Homo sapiens: one gene and its partners. The protein of the gene in region 2 interacts with the protein of the main gene of each other region in a biochemical or structural test. Each region holds a gene or a part of one and is shown on either strand. Other genes may lie near its edges. The genes, in order: TPT1, IKBKG, RAB11A, PRKD3, TCP11, TCEANC and RNF34.

What was found.
Region 1: the proteins of IKBKG (region 2) and TPT1 form a complex in vitro, tested with the Homo sapiens proteins (one study listed by BioGRID and IntAct).
Region 3: the proteins of IKBKG (region 2) and RAB11A are reported together in a solved structure, tested with the Homo sapiens proteins (2 studies listed by BioGRID, with this or other methods).
Region 4: the proteins of IKBKG (region 2) and PRKD3 form a complex in vitro, tested with the Homo sapiens proteins (one study listed by BioGRID and IntAct).
Region 5: the proteins of IKBKG (region 2) and TCP11 form a complex in vitro, tested with the Homo sapiens proteins (one study listed by BioGRID and IntAct).
Region 6: the proteins of IKBKG (region 2) and TCEANC form a complex in vitro, tested with the Homo sapiens proteins (one study listed by BioGRID and IntAct).
Region 7: the proteins of IKBKG (region 2) and RNF34 form a complex in vitro, tested with the Homo sapiens proteins (one study listed by BioGRID).

What each region holds. Positions count from the first base shown.
Region 1 is NC_000013.11:45,335,578-45,338,183, forward strand, and holds part of TPT1 (translationally-controlled tumor protein), read right to left. Parts: intron 2,033-2,606; exon of another isoform or gene 1,977-2,032; coding exon of another isoform or gene 1,899-1,976; exon of another isoform or gene 1,812-1,898; coding exon 1,809-1,811; 3' UTR 1-1,808. UniProt on the Homo sapiens protein: Involved in calcium binding and microtubule stabilization. Acts as a negative regulator of TSC22D1-mediated apoptosis, via interaction with and destabilization of TSC22D1 protein.
Region 2 is NC_000023.11:154,557,620-154,561,119, reverse strand, and holds part of IKBKG (NF-kappa-B essential modulator), read right to left. Parts: intron 2,589-3,500; coding exon 2,470-2,588; intron 714-2,469; coding exon 561-713; intron 1-560. UniProt on the Homo sapiens protein: Regulatory subunit of the IKK core complex which phosphorylates inhibitors of NF-kappa-B thus leading to the dissociation of the inhibitor/NF-kappa-B complex and ultimately the degradation of the inhibitor.
Region 3 is NC_000015.10:65,872,491-65,875,990, reverse strand, and holds part of RAB11A (ras-related protein Rab-11A), read right to left. Parts: intron 1-3,500. UniProt on the Homo sapiens protein: The small GTPases Rab are key regulators of intracellular membrane trafficking, from the formation of transport vesicles to their fusion with membranes.
Region 4 is NC_000002.12:37,255,334-37,258,833, forward strand, and holds part of PRKD3 (serine/threonine-protein kinase D3), read right to left. Parts: exon of another isoform or gene 2,983-3,500; intron 1,597-2,982; coding exon 1,329-1,596; intron 1,133-1,328; exon of another isoform or gene 1-1,132. UniProt on the Homo sapiens protein: Converts transient diacylglycerol (DAG) signals into prolonged physiological effects, downstream of PKC. Involved in resistance to oxidative stress.
Region 5 is NC_000006.12:35,124,340-35,127,839, forward strand, and holds part of TCP11 (T-complex protein 11 homolog), read right to left. Parts: intron 1-3,500. UniProt on the Homo sapiens protein: Plays a role in the process of sperm capacitation and acrosome reactions. Probable receptor for the putative fertilization-promoting peptide (FPP) at the sperm membrane that may modulate the activity of the adenylyl cyclase cAMP pathway.
Region 6 is NC_000023.11:13,659,641-13,663,140, reverse strand, and holds part of TCEANC (transcription elongation factor A N-terminal and central domain-containing protein), read right to left. Parts: intron 3,490-3,500; 5' UTR 3,455-3,489; coding exon of another isoform or gene 3,373-3,454; intron 2,111-3,372; 5' UTR 2,019-2,110; intron 641-2,018; coding exon of another isoform or gene 633-640; coding exon 1-632.
Region 7 is NC_000012.12:121,420,618-121,424,117, reverse strand, and holds part of RNF34 (E3 ubiquitin-protein ligase RNF34), read right to left. Parts: coding exon 3,340-3,500; exon of another isoform or gene 3,127-3,339; intron 733-3,126; coding exon 542-732; 3' UTR 1-541. UniProt on the Homo sapiens protein: E3 ubiquitin-protein ligase that regulates several biological processes through the ubiquitin-mediated proteasomal degradation of various target proteins.

The DNA of each region.
Region 1 (2,606 bases), on a different chromosome or scaffold from region 2:
AAAGGCCCTGTAGATGAGACTCACACTTTTCATTACAATGTCAAATCAGAACGCTAAGCCAGGTGCAATGCCTCACACCTGTAATCCCAACACTTTAGAAGGCCAAAGCTTGAGATCACTTGAGGCCAGAGTTTTCAGACCAGCCTGGGCCACATGGCATGACCCCATCCCTACAAAAAATCTATCAGAATGCTTAAAATTGCTATTAAGTTCCCAATACGTATTTAGGTTTGTTTCCAATCACGGGGTGCTGGGGGTTAACATTAGTATCTGCCTCAGGTTTTGGACACTATGGACAGTCTGGAATTTGACACTAGGGCAAACTCCAGATTGCTCAAACCACTACATTCACATGTTCAAGCAGACCAGAGTCACTGGCCTGCTTTTAATCTTTCTTTTACAAGTGTAATCAACCAGGTAAGGCTGATAGACTATTTCCCAAAACTCACGTTTTGAAAATTCCCCTCCCAGGCTAGGCCTGCACTTTGGGAGGCTGAGGTGGGCAGATCTCCTTGAGCCCAGGAGTTGAGACCACCCTGGGCAACTAAGCGATACTCGGTCTCTACAAAAATTAGCTGGGCATAGGGGTGCATGCCTGCAGTCCCAGCAACTAGTGAGACTGAGGTGGGAAAATGGCTTGAGCACAGGATGCAGAGAATGCAGTGAGTTGCTTGTGCCACTGCACTACAAGCCTGGGTGACCGACCTGCCTCAAAAACTCTTCCCGCTTTTTTTCCTCCTGTATTCCTCTATTCAATCTCAGCTGCCACAATTAGACAGACGGAAAGCGCAAGGACATGTTCTTCTTGCATCTGTGGTGGAAACCATAGCAGCAGATAGCAACTGCTCCAGGTCTGTCAAATAGATGCATTTTCTTATTCAGACACCCCATCTTTTCAGATACAATATAGAGAACATTTTTACCCCTTTGCCCACCAGCCAGCCCACATTCTGTGTACCTTCATCTTTTAAATCAGGGGCTGGCAAACTTGCAGGCTCTAGTCTGTTAGACACAACTCTGCTCATGCACTGACAACAGCCACAGTCAATCCATAAATGAATAAGCATAGCCACGTTCCAATAAAACTGGACTCGAACTTAAATTCCATATCCCACAAGGTATTCTTTTCCCCTCAACCATTTAAAAAGGCAACCAACCACCTTAAAGTGTACAAAACAGGTGGTCAGATAGGCTAGTTTGCCAGTCCCTGTTCTAGTTACCAGGGAGTTTAATTAACATTCATCCCAAAAGACTTCGCTCTCTTTATGTGAAATAAGCTGAGACAAAGTTGCTTCCACTGAATGAGTCTCTTTTTATTCTCTTGGTAATCTCTTCCAGTTAACTACTTCCGTTGTAGGTGATGAAATGGGTAAGGCTCCACACTTCAGATGTTGGCACTGCTATGAGCATGGTCTTTCCCTTTATTGCAACTCAAAATCAGAACCTTTGATTCTTTTTTATATTCCAGTCCCAGAAGTAGTCTCCACTGTAGAAGTTAATTGATGAGTAGTAGCCTACAATCAGGCTCTAGCTTCTCCAGGAACACTACAGGATCAATTTAGTTTAAATATGCATTAAACTAAAAGGCATTCTCTCAAATGAGTTTAAATGCATTTTATTTTTAGACAACCTACATGACATGTTTTTCTTAAAAACAATGCCTCCACTCCAAATAAATCACAGTCAAAATAAATGAAGAGCTCAAGATGACATCAGTCCCATTTGTCTTAAGTCCTGGTGTTGTGTGGATGACAAGCAGAAGCCAGTTATGATGACAGGTGATAGATCCAAAATAATTGCCACATTTGTTACTGTAAAAGCAAAAACTACATTAATATTTTTCAAACATTACACTGCAAAAGTTACATTACCATTAACATGCAGCCTACATTTCCAGGCTAAAGATGTATTCCCCAATTCAATCTGGGCCGCCACAAAGACAGACAGAAAGCGCAGGGATTTCTTTCTTTTGCATCCTAGTGCAAACCAAAAGAACAACAGTAAATTGTTCAAGGTCTATCAGTGGATGCAGAACACCCTTACCAAATCAGCGGTAGCTCATTTTTCAGAAGGCTGTGGCATGTACCACCCACACCCTGCTCTACCAACAAAAACCTCAGATACTGTCTGAATAACCCCTTTGGTAAGTCATCTTATACTGTTCTAAGTAATTTCTGTCTACTGTTGACTCTAATCTTGTTCAGTATAGCTTTATGTTTTTCTTCTTCCTTATACAGAAGCCTATGAAAACTAGGATAATGAATGCCTTTGTTTCTGTACAGCTTCCAGCAGTTCCTTCCATAGAAGACACCAAGTTATTTATTATTAGTAAAACAATTTGCATACCAGTTCAGCAGTCAGCTCTATTTACTAAGCTAGTACTGCACTAGGCTTTTCAATGATCAGCTGCCCATTATCAGTAAACCAAAGTGAAAACCACTGATACTGATCCATACGTATACAGCAAAATATGATTATGAAGTGAAAGTGAGGCCATATCTAGAGGAAGATCAATGGTGTTCTCTGATCTCCTTCAGCATTTAAACTCTACTGTATTTTTTTGAGACAGCACCTCACTCTGTCACCCAGGATAGAGTGCAGTGGTG
Region 2 (3,500 bases):
TCACAAACAGCTCAGAAAGGCAGGGGAACTGTTCTAGATTAAAGGAGACTGAAAAGGCACGCCAAGGACAGGAACCTGAGGTCCCAGATTGGATGCTGGTAGACGGGGGGGTTTGGGGGTATTTTTGTTGTCTTTCTGTTGCCCAGGCTGGTCTTGGAACTCCCGGGCTTAAGCCATCTACCCACTTTGGCCTCCCAAAGTGTTGGGATTACAGGCGTGAGCCACAGCACCTGGCCTAGAAGGGGTTTTAAAGGACAAGTCCCCTGATGACCTAGTGGCTAGGAAAAAAAAACTACAAAAAAGGCCACGTGTGGACACGCAGTGAAACGTGGTCTGGAGAGCAGATGGCATGACTGTATCAAAGACAAACCGGGTGTCATCATGGTCGCCTCTACCGTTAGCAAGGCTAAGGGACAGAATGGGCCCACAGCCACAGGCAGAATCTGAAGGAGTCCTCAGAAGGCAGAAAGAACCATGGACCCGACACTTCTCAGCCTTTCGGCTAAGATCAAGTGTAGAACCACAGACCCTGCGGTGCGGCCCCGCCCCCGCTGACTCACTTCTCCTCCGAGGCGGCCTGGCGCTCCATGCGGAGCGCGGCCTCCACGCTCTGGCCCTGCATGCGCAGCTGGTCCACCTGCACGCTGTGCTGCTGCTGCAGCGCCTCGCGCTCACTCTCCAGCTGCCGCGCCTGCTCGCTGGCCGCCCGGGCCCTGGCACGGGGAAAGAGCAGACTCAGGGAGGACGAACGGGGGGACGGCAGGGGCTATGCGCAGGGCGTGGGCGGGGGGTGGGGGTCGGCTCTGAACACCCTGTGACTGCGAGCTGATGCCAGGCGGCAGGGTGGAGGCACCGTCAACAGACACGAGGACAACTGCAGGGGGCCAGGTGGGAGCAGCAGGTGAGGAGCTTTGCTTAAGACGTGTTTGCTTCAATGCAGGGGCCCAGCAGGTGACCAAGTACAGATGGCAAGGAGACCTGGAAGCCAGGGGAAGGGGGTGGTCCGAGAAAAGGATGGGGTCGCCTGCATCCCGCAGTGCTGGGGCCAGGTGAGAGGAGCCCTCGGAACTGCCCGTGGAGTTCCACTGGGGGACTGCTGGGGGCCCCAGCAAAAGCAGTCTCAGTGGAGGGGGTCAGGAGAGACTGCTGTTCCAAAAATGAGAGACTGCCCACCTGGGCGTGCAAGCACTGAGCTCAATGCAGACCGGGCCTCGGCCCCATCCCTGCTGCTGCCCAGAGCTCTGCTGGAGTCCCAGACGACCTGCTCGGATGCTCAGTTCCCACACCTGCCCCCCTACAGCTCCCTTAACCTCCAGTTTCCAGGGTCTGGCCTCATCCCACCACACCAAGCCCTTCCACAGCCTCACTGCAGGGACAATGGTGGGTGCATCTGTCCAGGTCCTGGGTGGCCTCTGGCCACAGGCAGACACGGCCCTTCTCCAGTCACCCCAACTCTGCCTGGCAGGCCTGGCTGCTTGGCTCTCCCCTCCGCGCCTGCCTGCATACTGCCCCCACACCCTGCACGGGTTCCCTCTGCCCATCAGAGCCTGGGTCAAGCTCCCCTCCCCTCTGCCCTGCTGGCTGCCCCAAGTGCACCTTGACCGCCTACTGTGCTGGGATGGCTGGGGCCCCCCTGGCAGCTGATCCATCTGTCTGGAGGGCAGAAGCAGGACCGAATGAGAACCACAGAAACCTCCCTGCCCTTTGACCCAATGGTCCCACTCACAAGAACCAAGACCCCTTTGCAAAAGAGAGTAACCAGCAGGCCTGAGGCCACCGGCTGGCAAGGTTGGCCCTTGGCTGGTGAAGTTCCCTTGCCACAGTGACACTTTCTCTAGTGGTCAGGTCGGTCCCTGCACCTAGGCCATTTGTAGGAAGAACGTGGTTGACGTGAGCACCCGCTCTGCTGCTGGGAGTCGGGGATTTAGGTACCTGCCTGGCAGAGGGCGCTGACAGGACCTGCCCCCAGTAAACACCCAGGGCGCTGAGTCTCTAGCGGGCATCCCTGGGCAGGAACACGGCCCGTGTGGGAGGCGCTTCTCACTGTGCCGCTCGCAGGGCAGCGGGAGGCTGGGACAGGGCTTCTCCAACTCCCCCCACGGCTCCTGCCCTGGCGGCTCCTGCCCTGTGCCTTTTTCCCTGTCATCAACCTCAGCCACGAGGGCGACTGTGCGCCGGTCCCAGAAGTCCTTCCAGAGAACTAGACACTGTGGGTGTGGGCTCGGGGCCCCCAGAATGCCTCCTAAGGAAATAATCCAAACTCCATCAAAGGGTCACAGAGTGCGGAGAGCCGGCTGGGACCCAGGTCCCGGATGCCTGGCCCAGACCTCTCCCGACGTCTGCCCCGACGTCTTTACGCAGCCTGCCCCGGTCTATCCTCATCAAGGAGCACCCTGGAGGCCCCTAAACCCACCTCATTGCTTTTGGAAACCCTGGAAGGGGTCTCCGGAGCCGGCTCCCCCGACTCACCGACCCTCCAGAGCCTGGCATTCCTTAGTGGCAGCCTCCAAGCGACTCTGGCTCTCCTGCAGCTCCCCGAGCAAGGACGTCACCTGGGCTTTCACAGAGGCCTTGTCCTCAGCCATCTGCTGCAGGATAAAAAGCCACTTCCTGTCAGCACTGCTTTCTCCCCAGCGGCCCACTCCTGCCATCCGCAAGCCCGGGGCAACCCGCAAGCGGCTGAGGCCTGCGCGCCATGAGGCCTTTTTTCCTGCCCTCGGCACCCCCAAACCTGGGTGCCCTAGGGCCTCATGAGCCCAAGGGCCACCCAACCCTCCCCAGCTGCCCACCTTAACCCTCTGCCACAGGGTGACACACAGATGGGGCAAAAAGAGATCCCCAAAGAGACGAAGGAGCACAAAGCTGCCTTGAGGTTGTCAACGGCTTAGTCACTGCCCCGGCAAGCAGGCCTCGAGGGCTGAACCCGGTGGCCTTGCAGCTACAGCCCCAGCAGGGGATCTCTCTCCGTCTCTCTGAGACTTGGGACAAAAGGAGGCCAGACACGAATAGGGCAAAGTAAACACAGGCCCCAGTCCACACCCGGGGCCGCCAGGATGGGAGAGTTTGTGCAGATCAAGAGTGGACACTGAATTTTGTTAAACACTGGGAACTGCAGAACCTCTCGGCAGGCACACTGCACTCAAACCCCTGCCCGAAGACACCCGGCCACCACCTCGCGGGGCCTCTGGGAGCCTAAGGCCGCGCCCCTGGGACGCCCCAGCCCCCTTTTGAGTGAGTTCCCGTCTGGAAACGCTCAGGGCTGCCCAGAGCATGTACTGTCTGTTCCGGCCAACACCTGACCTCCCTTTCTGACAGCATTTACTACAAAGGGCTTACCCTGTCCCTTTGAGACATCTGTGTAGCACCCACAACCCAGGGGCTTTCCCGAGGGCCCCGCAGCCACTCCTTGGAAACGGAAACCTCAGGAGGCGCGGGGCCCAGTCTCCCAGTCTCCACGGGACGGAAGCATCCCAACCTTGGTAAGCACCGGCAGCTCCCAC
Region 3 (3,500 bases), on a different chromosome or scaffold from region 2:
CATTTCAGGAAACATTACATTCGTTCCTACTTTTGACTACTAAGACTTCTTCTTATCTAAACTAGCTAATTGATTTAGACATCAGGACTAGAAAATCAAACATACAAAAATAAGGCCAAGGAGTAAGACCATTCCTTACTAAAGAGACTGGGATGGTGGTACGAGTGGAAAGAATGGTAAAAACTGAGAGCTCACTGCATTCTGGTCAGAGGGCAAAGAGAGTCCATTATACATTCCCTCCTTGCCACAGGAGTGGATATAAGCTAGCCTCTGGACAGTCTTGGACAGAGTACATTATCAAATGCATATCTTTCTGGCTTTCTCAGTCAGCTGATTCAGCAAGAAATCATTCAGGAGGCAGTGAATCCAATGCAGCACAAAGAATGGTTATTTCTAACTAGAGAGTCAACTAGAGGGTGTCAAAGATGCTGTGGCAAACACATACATGCTTTTATTTGATATCAGAAGAAAATGTCAAAGTTATTAAAGTGATGTACAAAAGCAATGCACTTTCAATTTTATAGGATGGTTAGTTGATATACTAGTTTCCAAGGTCCACCATTCTGGATATGAAGTCAAATCTCAGTTTCAGTTAATAGTCTATTATTAATAGGATACATTCACTGTTGCCTCTTAGTACAAAAGGCTGGATGTTTGCTAAGGAAATGGCCTTTGAATCACTTATACAAAAAAAAAAATTTAAATACAAAAAAATACACAAAAAATACATGAATAAATACAAACAAAAAAATTAGACAGGCACGGTGGTGCATGCCTGTAGTCCCAACTACTCAGGAGGCTGAGGTGGGCAAATGGCTTGAGCCTGGGAGGCAGAGGTTGTGGTGAGCCTGGACTGTGCACCACTGTACTCTAGCCGGGGGAGTAGAGCCAGAACTTGTCTCAAAAAAAAAACTTCCAGCACTTTCTTTCTTTCTTTCTTTTTTTGAGACAGGGTCTCACTGTCGCCCAGGCTGGAGTGCCACGGCACAAGCAGAGCCCACTGCAGCCTAGACCTCCCAGGCTCAGAGGATCCTCCCACCTCAGCCTCCCTAGTAGCTGGAACTACAGGCACATGCCAACACGCTCAGCTAATTTTTTGTATTTTCTGTAGAGATGGGGTTTTGCCATGTTGCCCAGGCTGGGTCTCAAACTCCAGGGCTCAAAAGATCCACTCGCTTTGGCCTCCCAAAGTACTGGGATTACAGGTATGAGCCACCATGCCCGGCCAACTCCAGCACTTTCAAGTTTTGGTTTCCTCCCTTTTGACCTCCACTTTTAACTAATGATTATGTTCATTATCTCACCAATCTCAACTCCTTATACCATCATAAAGATAGCAAGGGAACTTTTCTCTTAATGTAACCAATTAATGTTAACACTACAAAAAAAAAGCACTCTAATCTGAAAATAACTCAAAATTCATGAATGTTTTAAAAAGTTATCTCAACTAGGCCGGGCGTGGTGGCTCACACCTGTAATCCCAGCACTTTGGAAGGCCAAGGAGGGTGGATCACCTGAGGTCGGGAGTTTGAGACCAGCCTGACCAACATGGAGAAACCTCATCTCTACTAAAAACACAAAATTAGCCAGGTGTGGTGGCGCATGCCCGTAGTCCCAGCTACTCAGGAGGCCGAAGCAGGAGAATTGCTTGAAGCGGGAGGCGGAGGTTGCAGTAAGCTGAAATCGCAGTAAGCTGAAATCGCGCCATTGCACTCCAGCCTGGGCAACAAGAGTGAAACTCCATCTCAAAAAAAAAAAAAAAAGTTATCAACTAGACATCTGCTGTATTTGAGTATCATCGCAAATACCTAATACTGAATATCAAGCTGCTAAATGCATAAAAGCAGAATATACATATTAATTATCCATTGAAAATTTCTGCCTCTTCAACCACATTTAGTTTTATACTTTCTCTTGCAAACTAATTTACTGGACTAAAATATAATTCATCAAAGACAGTACCTCAACCCTAAAAGTTACCACGTGAGAGAATAACTGGTAATTTTCATTCTAGTTTTCATAAATTTGGAGACATTTCTATTCTTTCAACTATATTCATAGTCCAACCTCCTCAAAAGTTTTTAATATACAATGCGTTCAAGGCAGGACACAGTGGCTCATGCCTGTAATCTCAGCACTCTGAGAGGCCAAGGTGGGAGGATCCCTTGAGCCCAGGAGTTTGAGACCAGCCTGGGCAACGTAGGGAGACCCTATCTCTACAAAAAAGAAAATTTTATTTCTGTAAGTGGGATAGTCTTAAAAAAAAAAAAATAGCCAGGCATGGTGGAGCACATTTGTAGTTGCAGCTACTTGGGAGGCTGAGGCAGGAGGATTTCTTGAGCACAGGAATTTGAGGCTGCAGTGGGCTATGACTGTGCCATGGCACTCCAGACTGGGCAACAGAGGGAGACCCTGCCTCAAAAAATATATATATATAGATATAGATATAGATATAATGCATACAATAAGGCTCAAGTCTAGACAAGTTTTTCCAGATTCAGCAGAATCTGAGTTGCTCAACCAAAACTTGTGAAAGAAAAACTACTACCAAGATGCAAGACAGCAAAGTTCCTATGATAATTTCTACTGACAATCAGCTGATGGTTAATTACTACTGACCTCCAATGTGATTGAAAAGAAAATGTCTTAAGCAATAGACTATGTATCCAGATATTTTCAGAAAATCTAACTGTGGATTGGTGTCTACCACACAATATTTGTAAACAGAAATCATGATTGATGCTTACTTATGTCCCACAGGGCCTTAACCACATTGTTCGTAAATACTTAAGGAATTAAAGTTTTAAAAATAAAAAGTCAACTTTAAATAAAATAAAACTAATTCCCTCCCACCAAAAGTCTCACTATTGGGCTTAAATAAAGGTTACTGTTCAAGAACAAACACATAATTTAGAATAATTGTCCTGCTCGCCCCACATTACATTCCTATTTAGACCACTCCATCCCCTATTAATCAAAATATCCCTTTATTTTGAACTGGTTAGTTACAAACTAACTCCAATTCCCTCAACTATTGCATTTGCTAGGTAAACCTTCTAAGTAGAAACAGCTGCAGTCCATCTCAGTGAATAAATCTCTGTACAATAAAGCCATTTTGAAATAAAATCATTCTTGCTTCACTTTAAAGTAGGATACTTGTATAAATAAGAAATTGGCTAAATAATCAGCATTGAAGTTAAAAAAGAAAAAGAAAAAGTGACTCATATCCTGTAAGAGCTTTAAAAAAGTAGAAATCTGGCCAGGCACGGTGGCTCACACCAGTAATCCCAGCACTTTGGGAGGCCCAGGCGGGCGGATCACCTGAGGTCAGGAGTTCGAGACCAGCCTGACCAACATGGAGAAACCCCGTCTCTACTAGAAATACAAAATTAGCCGGGTGTGGTGGTCCATGCCTGTAATCCCAGCTACTCGGGAGACTGAGGCAGGAAAATCGCTTGAACCCAGGAAGCAGAGGTTGCAATGAGCCGAGATCGCGTCAT
Region 4 (3,500 bases), on a different chromosome or scaffold from region 2:
ACATGGGCTGGTTAAATCCAGATGGGGGTATTCCCCAGCACTGGTTCTATTAACTTCTATGGGGCAGTTAAATAATGTTTTAAGTAGTGTACTTGTCCTTCCTATCAGTATCAGCAGACTAAAGAGGGCCAGCCAACTTATTCTTGACGGGTACAGAACCAGGAGTTGCAAATTCAAAAGCCTTCACTAGGCAGGAAAAAGAGATGTATGCAGCTTCCCAGCAGAGGTCCACAGGAGAGAGGAAAACAAACTGCAGTGTGTCTGGTGATTATAAAGTTCATTCTAGGTATAAGGAACCGGAGCTAGGTATTCATTCACGGAGCTCACAGTCTTGTTCTGAAGATTAGAAAAGTCAATTATGAAAAGAATGAATACTTAAGAAAAAAATGGGGCTGGGTGCAGTGGCTCATGCCTGTAATCCCAGCACTTTGGGAGGTCAAGTTGGGAAGATCAATTGAGTGCAAGAGTTTGACACCAGCCTGGGCAACATAGTGGGACCCCATCTCTACAAAAAATTTAAAAATTAGCCAGGTGTGGGTGGCCCATGGTGCATACCCATCATCCCACCTAGTCAGGAGGCTGAGGTGGGAGGATCACTTGAGCCCAGGAAGTCGAGGCTGCAGTGAGCTGTGTTTGTGCACACTTCAGCCTGGGTGACAGAGGGAGACCCCGTCTCAATAAAAATAAAAAAAGATAATAAAAAAGCCCAAATGTTTTTTAGCCTAAGTAAATTCTGCAGTGTAGAGGAGTAGTCAGGGAACTTTATAGATGAGCCACAAATTAAGGGGTCCTCGAATTTTAATAGGAAGGATTGTAGACAAGGGAAAAACAGTCCCAAGCAAATTGCAGAAAACAGTTCAGAAGAGTAAACAACTAGGTTTGTGTAGGGAGTAGTGGGAGATGAGGCTAGAAGGTAAGCATGGACCATATCACAGATAACTATGCCTGTAAGGTGGTTAAAGAGAAGTGTTTGGGAGCACCATAAATGAAAGTAATGTTTCCTGAAGATAGATTTGGCAGTAGTGACTAGGAAGGACCAGAAAAGAGTTTAACAGGTAAGACAGTTAAAAAGATATTTTAGTGGTTTGACAATGAGGCCACTGGGGCCTATGTAAGTGCTATGCCTGGGAACTATACAGAAGACACAGATAAAAGTATAAAAAGAAGAGTGCTCAAAAAACTGGTAACTAGTTGAATTTGGAAGATGAATGGGAGATGTACTAAAAAGATAAGTTGCAAGAGACAGACTGATTTGGGATGAGAAAGATGTTTAGGCTTAAAACACATAGCCAAAATTTTTTTTTTTTTTTTTTTTTTTTTTTTTTTACCTTCACCAGAAATTTCTCTCCATGGATTTGGTGGGTACATAAATGCAGCATTTTGGATTTGGTCATTTATATCTTCATCCTCATTAAAAGGAAATGTGCCACTGAGGCTCACATAGATGATAACTCCCACTGACCACATATCTAGGGAACGGTTGTAACCTTTGCTCCGGAGAACTTCAGGGGCTAAGTATGCTGGAGTTCCTACCACAGATCTCCTGAATGACTTTTCACCAATGATGCGTGCAAATCCAAAGTCACACAGCTTCACCTGGAAATTGAAGGATGATGTTAATTTTGTATTATAGTGTTATATATGTAACTACCTGTCCCTAAATATAACACTGTATGTATCATTTCAACATACTTGCCAGCTCTACTGATTATGAATATTAATCACAGATAAGGAAATTGTAAAATATCCTTTTCTCAAAAGGCAGACACATTTATAGCCCTGTGATCCTGACTGACACAGTATGAAGAGCTTTCCTAGTACATATTTCAAAAGTTCTAGCTTCCAGAATACCAAATACCAGACTGGTGTTATAAGTGTTCTGATTTCTTATGAAATAGAGTATGCTGCTTTCTATCATTTGTCTTGTAAGATCACTCTTCCATCATCTGTGAGCAGGAATTGTTTCATTTCTGAATCCTTAGTGGCCTCACAGTGCCTGGACACATAAAGGTACTCAATGTTTGCTGAAGGAAAAATAAGTTACAGTATTAGCCAGGTGTGGTGGCTCACACCTGTAATCCCAGCACTTTGGGAGGCCGAGGCGGGCGGATCACGAGGTCAGGAGATTGAGACCATCCTGGCTAATGCGGTGAAACCCCGTCTCTACTGAAGATACAAAAAAATTAGCCTGGCGTGGTGGCGGGTGCCTGTAGTCCCAGCTACTTGGGAGGCTGAAGCAGGAGAATGGCGTGAACCCAGGAGGCAGAGCTTGCAGTGAGTCGAGATTACGCCGCTGCAATCCAGCCTGGGCGACAGAGTGAAGACTCTGTCTCAAAAGAAAAAAAAAAAAAAAAAAAAAAAGTTACAGTATTTAAAAACATCCCTTGTTTTGCTTAATCCTAGAATCTCTTTTCCTAAGGATGTTATAAACTGGCAAGTAAATAAAACTGAGGTGTATTAAAGGTAATTTTAAATGGGGACACCAGTGGAATAATGCTGGAGACTGCCCCAGTGAGTAACAGCAACACTTTTCTATCACTGTGGAACAAATTATTTCTAGTTAGATGTTTAGATTTGAAAACAGTTATATGTAAAGGGAGCCATAGTCACTACCACATCCTCTCAAAAGAGAGTTCTAGAAGTTGATGAGCTTGGCAGAACTCAGAACACTTATCTTGCTGCCCAGATTTTTCTAGAGGCTCAAATCTGGGGGATTAATGACCACATCCATGCTGAACAAGCAAATGCCAGGTACTTTCTGGAGGAAATGCTCTGACTTAAAAAATGTCTTTAGCAAAAGCATTAATATAAATTGAGAGGAAAAAGATTTAAGCTGTAGAAAACAGTGGTACAAACAGTGCCTAGAAAACGAAGTGAAGTTATCAAATGCTGCTATTTCTGGGATGGTGGACTCTGACACATATTTTTATGAATGATATTTGCTCAAAATCATTACTGAATCTGGCTGCTTCTCGATTTCAGTGTCTTTGAAGAGTACGAATACTGAGCCTGAAGAAATACAAACTCTTTTTTTGTTGTTAAATGCCAGATTTCAGCTAACATCTTGATAAGGTAAAGATGACTTGGAAGTTTGGCAACTGATTAAAGAAGTGGAGCCATGGCTAACACTTGAGCATAAAAAGCGTATCAAGTAAATCACATTATTTTCCCTTTGCTTCTCATTGGAACACTGTGGATCACTAAAATAGAGGTCAGAAAGTGGGAGTTTTAATGTTACCAGTAGGAGTGTGCATCTTTTGTCTACTATTTTGAAGATCAAATGAGATAATATATGGAAGCAGTTTATTTAAAACATTGCACCAACTATCAGGCAACCCTTTCGACCTCAAAATGATAGGGAATCACTTTTAACCACATAAACATAAAAAGAATATGATTACTACTTTAAAAGCTGAACGATTTTTAATATATCTTTTTATTTGAAAAGACAATTTGAGTTATATTTACCAAGTGAAAACACCTATCTGTTGTCCTTAGTC
Region 5 (3,500 bases), on a different chromosome or scaffold from region 2:
GGGTGCTGTACAGAATGTCTTGCAAGCACCAATAAGGGAACCACACATGGACCTTTAGGAATTGGGAGCAAATCTATTCCTTCTTTAATGATAATTATTCACCTTTTGAGAAACAACTTCTTGGGCCTTGGTAGAAAGTAAACACCTTACTATAGAACACTGGGTAACCATGTGGCCTAAGCTTCCCATCAGGAATTAGGTATTGTCTAACTTACGTAGCTACAAGACTGGACATGCACAGCAGCAATCTATTATCAAATGAAAATGGCTTATAAGAGACCAAGCATATACTGGTAATAAGAACAGATACACAGACCAAAAGAATAGAGAGCTGATAAATAAAACCTGGATATATAAGGTCAAATGATTTTCAACAACAATGCCAAGAACCAATGGGGAAAGGACAGTCTTTTCAACAAATGGTGCTGGGAAAACAGGATATTCACATGCAAAAGAACAAAGTTGGACCTTTACCTTACCCCCATATAAAAATATTAATTCAGTTGTGCACATGTACCCTAAAACTTAAAGTATAATAAAAAATATATATATATATTAATTCAAAATGGTAGTGGCTCACGTCTGTAATCCCAGCACTTTGGGAGGTCGAGGCAGGCGGATCACCTGAGGTCAGGAGTTTGAGACCAGCCTGAGCAAAATGGTGAAACCCCATCTCTACTAAAAATACAAAAAATTAGCCGGGCGTGATAGTGCACACTTGTAATCCAGCTACTACTTGGGAGGCTGAGGTGGGAGAATAGCTTGAACCAGGGAGGCAGAGATTGCAGTGGCCAAGATCGCACCACTGCACTACAGCCTGGGTGACAGAGCAAGACTCTGTCTCAAAAAAAAAAAAAAAAGAAAGAAAAAAGAAAAAAAGGACCTAAACATAAGAGCTAAAACTACAAAACTCTTTGGAGAAAACATAGGTGTAAATATTCATGATCTAGGATTTGGCAGGATTTGACACCAAAAGCATAAAATTCAATAAAAGACAATCCAATTTAAAAATGGACAAAGTACCTGAGTAAACATTTCTTTGAAGAAGATGTACAAATAGCCAACAAACACACGAACAGATGCTCAATATCACTAGCCATTAAGAGAAATGCAAGTCAATGAGATACCACTTCACACCCATTAGAATGGCCATTACCAAAAATGGAAAACAGCAAATGCTGGCTAGGATGTGGAGAAATTGGAACCCTGGTACATTGCTGGTAGGAATATAAAATGGTGTGGCTACAACAGAAAACAGTTTGGCAGTTCCTCAAAAAGTTAAACATAGAATTACCATAGGATCCAACAATTCCAACTTTAGGTATATACCCAGAAAAATTAAAAGCAGGGACTCAAATATATACTTGTACACAAGGTTTACAGCAGCATTATTTACAATAGCCAAAAGGCATAAAGAACCTAAACGTCCATCAACAGATGTATGAACAAAATGTATTCTATCCATATAATAAGAATATTATTCAGCCATAAAAAGGAATTACATTCTGATATATGCTACAATATGGATGGACCTTTAAAACATTACACTAAGTTAAACAAGTCCAAAACTAAAAGGACAAATATTGTATTCCATTTATAAGTACCTAGAGTAGTCAAATTCATAGAGACAGAAAGTACAGGTGCTAGTGGGAGAGGGGAAAGGGAAATTATTGTTTAATGAGTACAAAATTTCTGTTAGGGAAGATTCAAAGGTTCTGGAAATGGATAGTGGTGATGGTTATATTGTAAATATACTTAATGCCAGTGAACTGTAACACTAAAAAATAGTAAATTTTGTTATGAATATTTTGCCACAACAAAAACAAATCCTAAAAAAAATTAAATAAATTTTTTAAAGCCCCCAATATGGCCCATTCCCCAGGGAGGATCAGTCAGCCATCTTATGGCAGATGATTTCACTGGACCTCTAACAGTTTAGAGAGGGCGAGATTCATCCTTACTGGGATAGACACATATTCTGGATATGGAGTTGTCTTCCCTGTTTGCCATGCTTCTGTCAGTACCAGCATCCAGATAATCACAGAATGCCTTATCAGCTGTCCTGGGTCTTTGCCTACTCCATTGCATTGCATCTGCTCAAGGAACTCATTTCACAGCAAAGGAAATGCAGTGAATTCATACCTACTAAATTAACTGGTCTGACCAAAAAGCTTTCACTGAGAATCAGCTGGCCCTAACTAAAAAGTAGAATGGCTTATTTTAGACTCAATTACAGCATTAGGTGAGCAACAATACCTGAAAGGAAGGGAATTGGTCTTACAGGATGCAATATATGCTTTGAATCAAAGACTTTTTTTTTTTTTTTTTTTTTTTTTTGAGACAGGGTTTTGCTCTGTTGCCCAGGTTGGGGCACAGTGACACAATCATGGCTCACTGCAACCTGTGCCTCTCAGGCTCCAGCAATCCTTCCGTGTCAGTCTCCTGAGTAGCTGGGAATAGAGGCATGTACCACCACACCCAGTTAATTTTTCTATTTTTTGTAGAGATGGGTTTCACCACATTACCCAAGCTGGCCTCAAATTCCTAGACTCAAGCATTCTGCCCACCTGAGCCTCCCAGAGTGTTGAGATTACAGGTGTGAGCCACTGTGCCTGGCTTCAAAGACCATTCTATGGTGCTGTCCCCTAATGCCAGAATACATGGGTCCAGGAATCAAGCAGTAGAAGTAGGACTGCTTCCTCTTACTAGCACACCTGATAACCCACTTGCAGGATTTTTGTTTCCCATCCTGCCAACTTTGAGGTCTGCTGATTTGTGTGAAATACTTGCATTGGTTCCAATGAAACAGAAGATGAAACTGACCATTGGGGGCTCCTTATACCACTGAACCAAAAGGGTAAAAAAAGGAGTTACTGTACTGGATGCCGTACTTGCTCCTGAGTACCAATGAGAAATTGGATTGTGGCCACACAATGGGGGTAAGAAAGACCATGCCTGAAACTCAGGAGATTCTCTGAGTTGCCTCTTAGTACTTCCAAGCTCAATATTAAAGGTTAATGGAAAACCACAACAAACAAAGCAAAATGTCTCAGACTCTTTGGCAATGAAGGTTTGGGTCACTGCACCAGATAAAGAACCCCAACTAGCTGAAGTTCTGGCCAAGGACAAGGGAAATATGGAATGAATGAATCGTGGAAGAAGGAAGCCATAGATAACAACTATAGCCTTGTGACCAGTTATGGAAACAAGGACTATAAATTTTATCTTTGCTTATTATATGTATGTTTATTTATATATGCCAACATTTTGTTCTTCCTCTTTCTTTCCATTGTTATTTTATATACAAGTTGTTAGAAGTTAAATTTTATGATTTAGCCTTTAGGTAACACAATAGTCAGTGAAACTGGCTGAATTTGAGGAGCGGCCAGTGATGGATACAATAACTATTTGGGCCATGTCTCCTCATTTTGGGGGAGGATAAATAATAAATAGCTATCTGTCTTGTAAGAGTTCTTTTCAGGAATTCAAATGTGTATAGA
Region 6 (3,500 bases), about 140 Mb from region 2:
GTAAAAACATGCTCTTCAATTTCTCTTGCAAAGTTTTGCCACAAATCAGCTTTGGGTTGATCTGTGGAAGAACTAGTTAAAGCTGCGTAAAGAAGCTCTATGCATTTAGTTCTCATGGGTGTTGTGGGATCCAGCAACTCACTCGATCTCTTGCCAGTGGATTCAGGGTCACCATCCCCAAAATGCTCTTCCTTAGGTTTCAATTGAATGGCTCTATTTTCAGGCACAATCATTTCACTGAGTTTTGCAACGTCTTGGGAAGACAGAGAATTCGAGCTGCAGATGCCCAGTGTCTCATTCTGACTTGGGTCATGAGAAGGTCCTGAATTTTCTTCTTTATTACCCCTCACAGGAAATAATTTAGGGCTGTTCCTCGCTTTGGAGTGAGTCTGCTTATAAACAGCTTTCCACTTTGATAGCAAACACTTGGCTTTCTTTTTCAAAGCCACAGAGGGGCAGTTTTTGAGGACTCTGTACACAGCTCTGACCACATCTGTCTCCTGGAGATGCTCCTTAGTCACATAAATTGTTTCTAGCTCAGTAAGGTGGTTGCCAAGATCCTCAAAATTCCTTTTGGACATCAGTTGCTCAATAAGAGAAGCTCTGGCAGCTATCTGGTTCTTGTCAGACATCTTTACAGCTGCAAAGAAAAAAGAGGTTTCAGTTTTCTTAAGTTTGCCGTTGCTAGTCGCAGCTTCTGGATACTAAAATAGCACTTTCTGTCAGTTACCTAGGCAATGTTTTCCGAAAGAGTCATGTAATACAAATGTATGCGACACGCTAGAAAATGGAATCTTTAAGGTGACGGTATGGTTTACTCTCAAGAGTTTAATTCCTACGAGTGAAAAACAAACAAACAGCATTGCAGAGCCTCTACATAACATCTGCTTAAGAGGCTTGCCGGAGGATCTGCTATAGCTTTTCCACCTCCAATTTTACAAATCAATGATCTTTCTAGATTAGTCAATCCATTTGGGCGGAATCCGGTGGTCATGTTGGAGGTGAAATCATGCCGGTGTCAGCATCAATATGGCAATGCTGAACAGTGCTAGACAATTTTTCCCCAGAGTCAGCTATATAACTGAACTACTTGCTCATTTCATAATCTTTAAAGTGGTACTCTTCTGAAAATAAAAGAGAAACAAGACAGAAAGGGTTTGCTAATGTCTCAAGCAATCTAAGGAAAATGTGAGACAGCACAGGTTGAAAAGCAGCTAGAGATACGTCTGCGGGTCCCAAAAGCCAACAGGCTACACTGTGCTGCCTTAGGAGTCTTCTGAACAAGGGAAAGGTTCAGACTCAATGATCCAGATGATTTATGACTTTAGACTAACTGGTTCTTACATTTTGGTTTTGTTAATTTTTAAAAAATTTTTAAGTGTAAAGAGTTGCTCAATGATTATGTCTGTGTGAATTTCATCCTAGGCAGGCAAATGTTTACTTTTATCTATGCAGTCTATTTTTTCCCTCCACATAATGTACATAATCTTGTCTATATAATACCCTTGGATCTATATTTATCTGTCTGGTCTAAATGTGAACATAAGCATCTTGATGGCAGGGACTGTGTCTTTTCAAAAATCCATGGGCTCTGTTTTATAGCACTTGATATTAAATAATCACCACCGAACATACACAGGCTAAGAACACTGAAGTGTTTAGAGAGAGAATTCACGCAGTCTTCCCAGACACCATATGACAAGTGACATAAAACATAATGACCTTTTAGTAATTCTACTTCCATAAATTTACTTTAAGGAAATGAGAGATGTGGAGACTGCATATGTAAGAATTTTCTTCTAAGGAGAAATTAGAAGGCCCTCAAATGGTTAAATGGAGAATGGTTAAAAATATGGCACACTCCTAGGATACAGTAATATAACCATTTAAAAATCATGTATTTAGATAATATTTAACGACATGGAAAAATGGTCATAAAGTTAGGTGAAAAACAATCAAGATGTAAAACTATATAAAAGACTAAACAGTTAACATATGGGCCGGGCATGGTGACTCACCCTGTAATCCCAGCACTTTGGGAGGCCGAGGCAGGCAGATCACGAGGTCAGGAGATCGAGACCATCCTGGCTAACATGGTGAAACCCCATCTCTACTAAAAATACAAAAAATTAGCCGGGTGTGGTGGCGGGCACCTGTAGTCCTAGCTACTTGGGAGGCTGAAGCAGGAGAATGGCATGAACCTGGAAGGCGGAGTTTGCAGTGAGCCAAGATCGTGCCACTGCACTCCAGCCTGGGCAACACAGCAAGACTCTGTCTAAAAAAAAATAATAATAAATAAATGAATAAACCAGTTATCATATGACCCAGCAGATCCAAGAGAAATGAAAACATATGTCCACACAAAAACTTGTATACAAATGTTCATAGCAGTATTATTCACAATAGCCAAAAATGGGAAATAATCGAAATGTCCATCAACTGATGAATGGATAAATAAAATGTGATTTATCCACACAACAGAATATTATTCTGCCATGAAAAGGAATGAAGTATTGATACAGTTACAACATGGATGAACCTTGAAAACATTATGCTGAGCAGAAGCAGCCAGACAGAAAAGTCCACATATTGTATGATTTTATTTACATGAAATGTCCAAAACAGGCAAATCTATAGAGACAGAAAATAGATCAGTTGTTGACTAGGTAGGGTAGGGCAGAAGGGCAGTGGGGTGAAGGAGGAGGAGCAGCTGATAAAGTTCAGGGATTTTCTTGGGAGGTGGTGGCACACATAAATCTTCTCAAGATTTATTTGTGGTGATGGGTTATACAACTGAGTATACTAAAAAACACTGAATTGTACACTTTAGGTGAACTGTATGGTGCGTGAATTACATCTGAATAAAGGTGTTATTTAAAAATAGAATTTGATCCAAATTTTATTTAAGAATTACATGTGAAAAGACTGAAAAGAGATACACAAAATTTTAAAGAGGGGCATTTTCTGAATGGTAAGATTTTAGGTAATTTTCATTTGTTATTTTCCTCTTCTGTATTTTCTGTGATGAGCATGTATTGCTTTCATAATCAGAAAAGTTATTGGTCTAACGCAATTTCATGATAAACTATATGCACTTAAGATATACCTACTGAAAAATGGTATGAGCAATGAATCAATCACCTTCTACCCACCTCCCCTCTGGAACGAGAATGTACATAACACTACTGAACTGTATACTTAAAAAGGCTTAAGACAGGCTGGGCGTGGTGGCTCACACCTGCAATCCCAGCACTTTGGGAGGCCAAGGTGGGTGGATCATGAGGTCAAGAGATCGAGTCTATCCTGGCCAACATGGTGAAACCTTGTCTCCACCAAAAATACAAAAAGTTAGCTGGATGTAGTGGCGCATACCTGTAGTCCCAGCTACTCGGAAGGCCGAGGCAGGAGAATTGCTTGAACCCGGGAGGCAGAGTTTGCGGTGAGCCGAGATCATGCCACTGCACTCCAACCTGGCGACAGAGCGAGACTCTGTCAAAAAA
Region 7 (3,500 bases), on a different chromosome or scaffold from region 2:
TTCCCAATTATGTTTAAATGCAGAAACAGCAACAATGTGGAAACTTACATTCATCAAATGTTAGCATTTAAAATATACATGACTAATAAAGTGAACATTCAGAGGAGCCACTGCTCAGCATGTTCCATGTCGGCCACTTGTGGACACTGATCTCATCCAAAGAGGACAGAAGTTTCAAACATCTGAGCAGTTTAAGTTAAAAATAGGATGAAGGGGAAATAAGAGAACAGGATAAGTGTCCTCCCAAGACAGCAGTGGCTGATGCCCACATGGCGCAAACAGGCTGACTTCAATGAGTGTTCACGGGATGTGTGATAAAGCCCAGCTGAGCCCGGGAAGCTCACGTGTCCACAGGCAGACAGGCTCACGGCATGGACCAATGTTTCCACAACTCAGGATGGATCTTTCTGTCCCCACTTAGTAGTCAAAATAATGTTTTAAAATAGCTTCAGCCTTTGAACATAACTTTCCAGTCCCTTCTGTGCATTGAAATGTTGGGGGTCAAGTTTGGGGGTGACTGTCCTGGTGAGGGGAGCCTGTTTCAGGACTTGAACACGTGCACGGCTCGCACCACATACTGCCGGCAGATGGGACACTCACTCATGCGCTTGCCGCACTTGGTGCAGGTAACCATGTGCCCACACTCCAGTAGGACACAGTCGATGACGGCATCCATGCAGATGCGACACAGGCTGTCGTCTTCCTCATCCTGCAGCTGCAGCCGCTCGCCATCTGAAAGGCAACAGAGAGCTAAGGCCTCGGCTTCAGGCATGGCCAGTCAGCCAGCCACCCTCCCAGTCCGAAGCTGAGCAGCCACCTGCTGAATGACCCCTGCAGGCCCAATGCCACCCCAGTGTTGTACAAGAAATAATCCCAACTTCTCTGCACTTTGGTTCTCTCCACTAGAAATGGCAATGATAAAAGCTATACCTCAGGGTTTTGTAAAGAATAAAATGCTTGACGTACCCAACAAATGTTAGCTATGTATTTCTATTTTATATCTTTGTCTAATTCAAGACATCTGTGATAGGGATATATTACTTCTGTAACTAGAAAAAGAAACCCTCAGCTGGTCTTCTGTAGATGGGCTTTGGAGTCAGGATGCTATTGGAATTTAACTCAGTTGCCCCAGCTTTGTAGCCCTGGGAACACCACAGTCTCTGGAGCCTCATCTCAGTAGGAAAAGGAGCCTTAGTTCCCCCTTAGGAAAGTTAGGAATAATTGTGCATCCTTCCCTCCCTAGCCTTAGAATCATCTCAAGCCATCTGTGTTCCTGGCCCTGCTGAAGTCTAACTTGAAAGAGATGGGCCGTCCTGGCTCTTGGCCCACCTTTACATCTGAGAAAATCCAGTCTGTGAATAAGAAAGACGATGAATAAGTTAAAAAAAAGTTAACCCCAGCCTGAGATTTGGCCATAGGGCTATGGATTTGGGTGCTTCCCTTTCTACAGGTCAGAGGAGATCAAAGGGAATCATGAATAGTTGGAACAGAACAGGAATTCAAGCTTGAAAGGTCAGTAGTCTCTAGATTTAAGAGAAATGTTTTACTGCCATTCATGGGGAGAGATTCTTGTGATCTGGGGTCTTAGTTCATGGCCCACGACTACTGGTGTGGACCTGGGGAGAAAGGATCTATGGGATGAGATGGCAGATATGCCAATGGAGAAGGCACTAGGCAACTCAAGATGAAATCAGAGTGGGCCTTGGTCTCTCCTTCTGTGTGGAGGGTTCCTTCCCACTCTTTAGAACTTAGGAAAGCAGAGGAGCCAGTATCTTGTCAGGGATATGGGAACAATCTTGGTAGTGACTTGGAGCCAGTCAAGCTAGGAAAGATGCCAGCTGTGCTCAAAACAAAATGTGTGTTCCACCCAAGCCAGAGATTGAACTAGGGTTAGATTATGCAGTGAGTTAATGGAGAAAGACACTGGAAACCATGCTGTCATAATAACAACCATGTTATATCCTACGCCGCAAAGTACTTAAGGGTGGGAATGGCATTATCGTTGTGCACTGTACATAGTTGCTATTTACATTTATGAAGTCAACTGACTTCTCCCCTCACTGCCAGAAAACCATTTCCCAGCCAGCAGCCTACGACCTCTGAAAGCTCTGAGGATGAAGATTCCTGCATCTACCACTGTGACATCATCTTTGAAGTAGGATTGCCAAAATATTTTGTGCATATTCTGGGCATAAACCTGTTCATCAACAAATGCTGTATTATAACCAGCTTTTAAAGGACAAAACTCAAGATGATAAAAGTTAATGATGGGAGGGCTGTTTAAGCTAGATAGGAACATAAGATTTGTTAGTCTGAACACCACTGAGGGTCAGGCATGGTGGCCCACGCCTAATTCAGCACTAGTCTGGGCAACATAGTGAGACCCTGTCTCAATTTAAAAATATTAAGTACATATATATTTTTTTTACAATTAAAAAGAAAAAAATAAATACAACTGAATTATTTTTTCTTGTCCATAAATGTTCCGTGGCTTGATCGTGTTACCAGCTGAGGAAGAATTTCTGTGCCAAATTTCATCAATGTATAGTTGAGAAGTTTTTGTTCTGTTTTGTTTTGTTTTGAGACAGTCTTGCTCTGTCACCTAGGCTGGAGTGCAGTGGCATGACCACGGCTCCCTGCAGGCTCAAGCAATCCTCCCCCCTCAGCCTCCCAAGTAGCTGGGACCACAGGCTGGTGCCACCACACCAGGTTTTTTTGGTTTTTTTTTTTTTTTTTTTTTTTTTTTAGAGATGGGATCTCTCTATGTTGCCCAGGCTGGTCTCAAACTCCTGGGCTCAAGTGATCCTCCTGCCTCAGCCTCCCAAAGTCCTAGAATTACAGTTGTGAGCCACCAAGCCCAGCCTAGTTCAGAAGTTCTTAACCTCAGCTTTTTGTGACTTACACAGAAATCTACAGATAGTTGATGCTAAGAACTATGTAACATCTGGGCTATAGGGAATTTTCCCCCTACTGTTAGATTTAAAAGTTGAGAGAACCAAGGTACTGGCCGGCCAAAGGCATTAGTGAGAAAATAAGCATTTTTACAGAGACGAGGAATTTAATTAGGGTTGTAACAAATAGTTAATTATAGTAAGAAAAACCAAATTGAATAATTTTCTAACTCACTTGGCAGTGGTGGTCTCGCAGCCATAATGAACATCACATAATGAAGTTACTCCTTTCCAGATCTATAAACAGGCTCATGTAACTAACTGATACTCAGTAAAATGGTACACAGCTTTCTCAAAAATAAATTTGACTTAATTGTGACAAAAACAACCCAGTTTTTAAAAGCCTAAGGAAAAATACTACAGGGAAAAAATGAAAAGATAAACCTACAGGACTTTTGGTTTTCTTCATTCTCTTTGTATAACCGGTTTACTTTCTCTACCAGTTCCCATTTTTCACAACAGCCAGAATAGTTGACAAAATTCCGAGCCAGAATTTCCTTCAGCTGGCGCACGCTCATTCCTTCCACATCATCAAGGCTTGACAAGTCA